Homo sapiens: one gene and its partner. The protein of the gene in region 1 purifies or fractionates together with the protein of each later gene. This does not show direct contact. Each region holds a gene or a part of one and is shown on either strand. Other genes may lie near its edges.

Region 1 (2,340 bases):
TCAACTCCTGACCTCGTGATCTGTCCGCCTTGGCCTCCCAAAGTGCTGGGAGTAATGTATCACATATATATAATGTTTCACAATTCTCAAAGTACTTTTACATGTAGCATTTATCTTATTGGAAGGAGTAACTGTAAATAAATTTCAGTTCCTCAGAATAAATGATATGTAAGCAGCTTGTCTATTTAAATACTTTTTTTTCCACATTTCTTGAGTTTTTAATATAATCGGAAGAAAGAAAGAAGTTTTCAAAGGTGTTTAAGATTATGATACCCTTCTAAACCAGGCTGGAAAGTAAGAGACTTCTCTTCTAAAAAACTCTGAAGTTTGCTTTAATATTATTTAACAGCAGGAGGTGAGTGTCCTACTTAACCATAATTTATTTTTTTTTCCTTCAGGACAACATAGGAGAGCTTGATCTTGATAAACAGTCTGAACTTAGAGCTTTAAGGAAAAAAGAACTAGATGAGGAGGAAAGCATTCGGAAAAAAGCTGTGCAGTTTGGAACCGGTGAACTGTGTGATGCCATCTCTGCAGTAGAAGAGAAAGTGAGCTACTTGAGACCTTTAGATTTTGAAGAAGCCAGAGAACTTTTCTTATTGGGTCAGCACTATGTCTTTGAGGCAAAAGAGTTCTTTCAGATTGATGGTTATGTCACTGACCATATTGAAGTTGTCCAAGACCACAGTGCTCTGTTTAAGGTGCTTGCATTCTTTGAAACTGACATGGAGAGACGGTGCAAGATGCATAAACGCAGAATAGCCATGCTAGAGCCCCTAACTGTAGACCTGAATCCACAGTATTATCTGTTGGTCAACAGACAGATCCAGTTTGAAATTGCACATGCTTACTATGATATGATGGATTTGAAGGTTGCCATTGCTGACAGGCTAAGGGATCCTGATTCACACATTGTAAAAAAAATAAATAATCTTAATAAGTCAGCACTGAAGTACTACCAGCTCTTCTTAGACTCCCTGAGAGACCCAAATAAAGTATTCCCTGAGCATATAGGGGAAGATGTTCTTCGCCCTGCCATGTTAGCTAAGTTTCGAGTTGCCCGTCTCTATGGCAAAATCATTACTGCAGATCCCAAGAAAGAGCTGGAAAATTTGGCAACATCATTGGAACATTACAAATTTATTGTTGATTACTGTGAAAAGCATCCTGAGGCCGCCCAGGAAATAGAAGTTGAGCTAGAACTTAGTAAAGAGATGGTTAGTCTTCTCCCAACAAAAATGGAGAGATTCAGAACCAAGATGGCCCTGACTTAATCCTTGTTTTTAAAGAAAGGAAATGTGCAATATTGAAGTGATCTTTTTCCCTAGTCAGACAGGCCCAATTCCATTGTGATGTTTACCTTTATAGCCAGGTGAGTGCAGTTTGAACTTGAGATACAGTCAACTGAGTGTTTGCTAGGATCCTAAGGAACATAAAGTTAATTAAAAACTTACACCTAATTATGTAAATTGCCTTGTTAAAGACATGTGATTTGTATTTTAGATGCTTGTTTCCTATTAAAATACAGACATTTCTACCCTCAGTTTCTAAATGTAGACTATTTGTTGGCTAGTACTTGATAGATTCCTTGTAAGAAAAAATGCTGGGTAATGTACCTGGTAACAAGCCTGTTAATATATTAAGATTGAAAAAGTAACTTCTATAGTTACTCCTTCTAAAATATTTGACTTCCTAAATTCCCCCCACCCAAAATCTTTCCCTTTTGAAAATACTAAAAACTAAGTTATGTTATTATAAAGTGTAAAATGGTTTGTCTTAATTATAGGAGAAAAAGGCCTTGTTAGAAATAAAATAAACTGACTTATTTCACTAATGAAAACTTCTGTTTCCTTTTTGTTTTCTTGTGAGCACTGATACCTCAATACATTGATACCTCAATACCTTTGAGGTATTTTTTGATACCTCAAAGATACTAGCTTATTTGAAGCTAGAGAAGAATATTTCTTCAATAACATTGCACAGTTAGAAAACATTAAAATATCATTCATGGGCCAGGCACCGTGTCTCATGCCTGTAATCCCGGCACTTTGGGAGGCTGAGGCAGGCGGATCACAAGGTCAGGAGATCGAGACCATCCTGGCTAACACGGTGAAACCCCGTCTCTACTAAAAATACAAAAAATTAGCCGGGCGTGGCCGCGTGCGCCTGTAGTCCCAGCTACTTGGGAGGCTGAGGCAGGAGAATGGCGTGAACCCAGGAGGCAGAGCTTGCAGTGAGCCGAGATTGTGGCACTGCACTCCAGCCTGGGTGACAGAGCGAGACTCTGTCTCAAAAAAAAAATATCATTCATGGCTGAGTGTGGTGGCTTATGCCTGTAAT
Region 2 (3,926 bases), on another chromosome or scaffold:
GCTGGAGCAAGGGGAGTGACTGCTCAAAGCCACTCCATTGGATGGCCATCAGAACTGGAACTTCAATCCAGGTTTTGTCTTAGGTAAATTCTGTGCCTCTTTCACTATAGAAAAAAAAAAATTGCTAAGGGAAGGCTTCGTGGAGGAGGAGGTGCTTGAACTGCCCAAGTGGCAGGGCACTAAGTGCCGAAGGGTGACCAGGCCTCTGGGCAAAAGCACAAAGATGCTGCACAGCAAAGCCAGTTAAAGAAACAAAACACGGTTCCGGGAATGTGCACTGCTTGAGGACAGGAAGGACCCAGATCCTAGAATGGGGCCTGGGGCTCAGCAGGCGCTGGATAACTGAAGAAATGGCTGTCTGGAACACAGATTTTTCTATAGAGGAGTAGTGGCGGTGAGGCTGCGAAGGCGGAAGATGGAGAGGCTTTCACACAAGGAAGGCGGTGGAGGAGGAGCGAGGGGGCTCCCGGGTGCTTGTGCGGACATAAGGTGCGAGAGAATCAGCTGGAAGGTGGGCTCCAGCAGAGAGAAGAGGAAGGCCAGAAGTAGACCGGGACAGGGGGAGGAAAGGACAGAGTCAAGGAACATTTAGGAGTTCGGTTCCCGGAGGCCTGGCGACACCCTGACGGGGAGGGGTGACGCGCACCCATTTGCAGGCAGAAAGGCAGGAGCAGGGGGGTGTCCGAGGATGGTGGCTCGGAGGGACCAGGCATAGGTGGTGCAAGCTCAGCAGTCACTCAAGGGGTGGCATGCGGATGAGGGAGGCGCCTCCCGGACTGGGGGACCGGGAAAGGCATTAGCAACCTGCCAGAACCCGGTTAACAAAGGCAGGACTACAATTCCCGGCATGCTCGGGCTCGGTGGGGTGACGGCGGGCGGTGGCTGCGCTGCACCCGACTGGTGGGCGCAGGACCTGGGTCGGCACCGGAGCCTGTCATCCCGGAGCGGTCGGCGGGGGTGCAGAGACGGCGATGCGCCCCTGTCCCCCGCACCCGGGCCGCTCCGGGCTCGCGCCTCCCGCCCCGCGGCCCCGCCCCCTGCCCCACCCCAGTCGGGAGGCTTAGCTGGGGCCGCAGCGCGGCGGCAACATCACTCTCGCTGCCGCTGCTCCGCCCCATCCCCTTCTGTTTTTCTCTCTCATTCTCCAGTGGCGGCGGCGGGGAAGGCGGAGGCAGAGGCAGCAGCAGCCGCGCTGGCTGCAATGAATGATCCCCCAGCTTGGGGGGAGGACTCCAGGTGAGCCTCTGCCCTCGGGAGGCCCGGGACCCCCGGCCGCCCACGACCGGCAGCCCACGCTATGGATCCCTAGAGGAAGGAGGAGAAGACAGCTCGCCGCCCACCCCCATCCCATTTTCCTCTTCCTTTATCTCATTGTTGCCGAAGCTGTTTACGGCAGCGCTCCCTCTGCTCCTGCATGGGGCGGGCTCCGGGCACGGCTGCTCGGCAGGCGCTGCTCCCGCGGCGACTGGGGGATTCTGCCTAATTCACCTCCCAGCCGGTGCAGAGAGGACCGGAGAGCGGTGGAGGCCCGGACTGCAGCAGCGTTGGGGCCACCTCCCAGCGTCCCCACCCTAGGAGGCTGCATGCGGATTGAAGAGCTGCGCCTGGGGGCTGGGCCGGCCCCGCTGATCCCGACCTAGCGAGCAGGATAGCAGGACCGCCCAGGCTGCGGAGGGGCTCGGGGGCAGGAAGGTCAGAGCAGCAAGATGGCCAGTAAGACCAAGGCCAGCGAGGCCCTCAAGGTGGTGGCCCGGTGCCGCCCCCTCAGCAGGAAGGAGGAGGCTGCTGGTCACGAGCAGATCCTGACCATGGACGTGAAACTGGGCCAGGTGACCCTGCGGAACCCCCGCGCCGCCCCGGGGGAGCTGCCCAAGACCTTCACCTTTGACGCCGTGTATGATGCCAGCTCCAAGCAGGCCGACCTGTATGACGAAACCGTGAGGCCCCTGATAGACTCCGTGCTCCAGGGTTTCAATGGCACGGTGTTTGCCTATGGCCAGACGGGCACTGGCAAGACCTATACCATGCAGGGGACCTGGGTGGAGCCCGAGCTGCGCGGGGTCATCCCGAATGCCTTTGAGCACATCTTCACCCACATCTCCCGCTCCCAGAACCAACAGTACCTGGTCCGGGCCTCCTATTTGGAGATCTACCAGGAAGAGATTCGAGACCTGCTCTCCAAGGAGCCGGGCAAGAGGCTAGAGCTGAAAGAGAACCCCGAGACTGGCGTCTACATCAAGGACCTCTCCTCCTTCGTCACCAAGAATGTCAAGGAGATTGAGCATGTGATGAACCTGGGGAACCAGACCCGGGCTGTGGGCAGCACCCACATGAATGAGGTCAGCTCCCGCTCCCATGCCATCTTCATCATCACTGTGGAGTGCAGCGAACGTGGCTCTGATGGCCAGGACCACATCCGAGTGGGCAAGCTCAACCTCGTGGACCTGGCTGGCAGCGAGAGGCAGAACAAGGCAGGCCCCAACACAGCGGGAGGGGCAGCCACACCATCCTCGGGTGGCGGTGGTGGCGGTGGAGGCAGTGGTGGTGGTGCTGGTGGAGAGAGGCCTAAGGAAGCCTCCAAAATCAACCTCTCATTATCTGCCCTGGGCAACGTGATTGCTGCCCTGGCGGGCAACAGGAGCACCCACATTCCCTACCGGGACTCCAAGCTGACCCGGCTGCTCCAGGACTCCCTGGGGGGGAATGCCAAGACCATCATGGTAGCCACACTGGGGCCAGCTTCTCACAGCTACGATGAGAGCCTCTCCACCTTGCGCTTTGCCAACCGAGCCAAGAACATCAAGAACAAGCCCCGGGTGAACGAGGACCCCAAGGACACACTGCTGCGGGAATTCCAAGAGGAGATTGCCCGCCTGAAGGCCCAGCTGGAGAAGAGGGGGATGCTGGGGAAGCGGCCCCGGAGGAAGAGCAGCCGCAGGAAGAAGGCCGTGTCCGCCCCGCCTGGGTACCCTGAGGGCCCAGTGATTGAGGCCTGGGTGGCAGAAGAGGAGGATGACAACAACAACAACCACCGCCCGCCCCAGCCCATCCTGGAGTCAGCCTTGGAGAAGAACATGGAGAATTACCTGCAGGAACAGAAGGAGCGGCTGGAGGAGGAGAAGGCAGCCATCCAGGATGACCGCAGCCTGGTGAGCGAGGAGAAGCAGAAGCTGCTGGAGGAGAAGGAGAAGATGCTGGAGGACCTGCGGCGGGAACAGCAGGCCACAGAGCTGCTTGCGGCCAAGTACAAGGTAAGGGCCCCAGAGGAGCTGGGCACTCGAGATGTCCCCGCAGGGGATCCCGGCAAGGAGGCTCTTCTTTGAGAGTCTGTGACCTGGCCTGAAGTGGAGGTTCTCCCTCAGCACCGCACACTGCCCTCCTGCCAAATGTGCCCCCAGAGCAGCCAGGCAAATTGCTGTGATACCGGGCTGCCAGGTACATGCACAGGCACACACACACGAAGCAACGTGGACAGGCGGTCTCTCAAGCCAGTGAGCTTGGGGTGGTCTGACCTGCTGTGGGCATTTCCTGCTGGTGGCCTCAGGATCAGTCAGGTCTGTGGGATGGCCAGGCAGCCTCTTGTGAATGTGGGTTCTTGTTCCTTCACAGCCTCCTCCCCTGAGGCTTCCTCCCTCTGCAGCATCTTCAAACCTCACGTCGTTTTAATAATATCATTTGGTTAGTGCTTCAGTTCAAAAAATGCCCCATATATATGATCCATACATGATCTCATTGGATCCTTTGGCCATCCAGGGTCACAGTTCTGAAATCCCCATTTCAGAGGTGAGGAATTAAAGCTTGGAGAAGTGACGTGACCAAGGTTCCATCCTATGAAGTGGCAGAGCTGAGCTGGAACCCATGGACCTCATGCTGTTTCAGTTCTTAGCTGGGCAAAGTGGGACCATGAACAGATTCTGCTCCCTGGG

What was found. The genes of interacting proteins can lie anywhere in the genome.
Region 2: the proteins of KIFBP (region 1) and KIF3C purify together in Homo sapiens (affinity purification with mass spectrometry; 2 studies listed by BioGRID and IntAct, with this or other methods). This does not show direct contact.

Annotation. Positions count from the first base shown.
Region 1 is NC_000010.11:69,015,143-69,017,482, forward strand, and holds the end of KIFBP (KIF-binding protein), read left to right. Parts: intron 1-398; coding exon 399-1,274; 3' UTR 1,275-1,840; downstream 1,841-2,340. UniProt on the Homo sapiens protein: Activator of KIF1B plus-end-directed microtubule motor activity. Required for organization of axonal microtubules, and axonal outgrowth and maintenance during peripheral and central nervous system development.
Region 2 is NC_000002.12:25,979,698-25,983,623, reverse strand, and holds the start of KIF3C (kinesin-like protein KIF3C), read left to right. Parts: upstream 1-1,126; 5' UTR 1,127-1,706; coding exon 1,707-3,251; intron 3,252-3,926.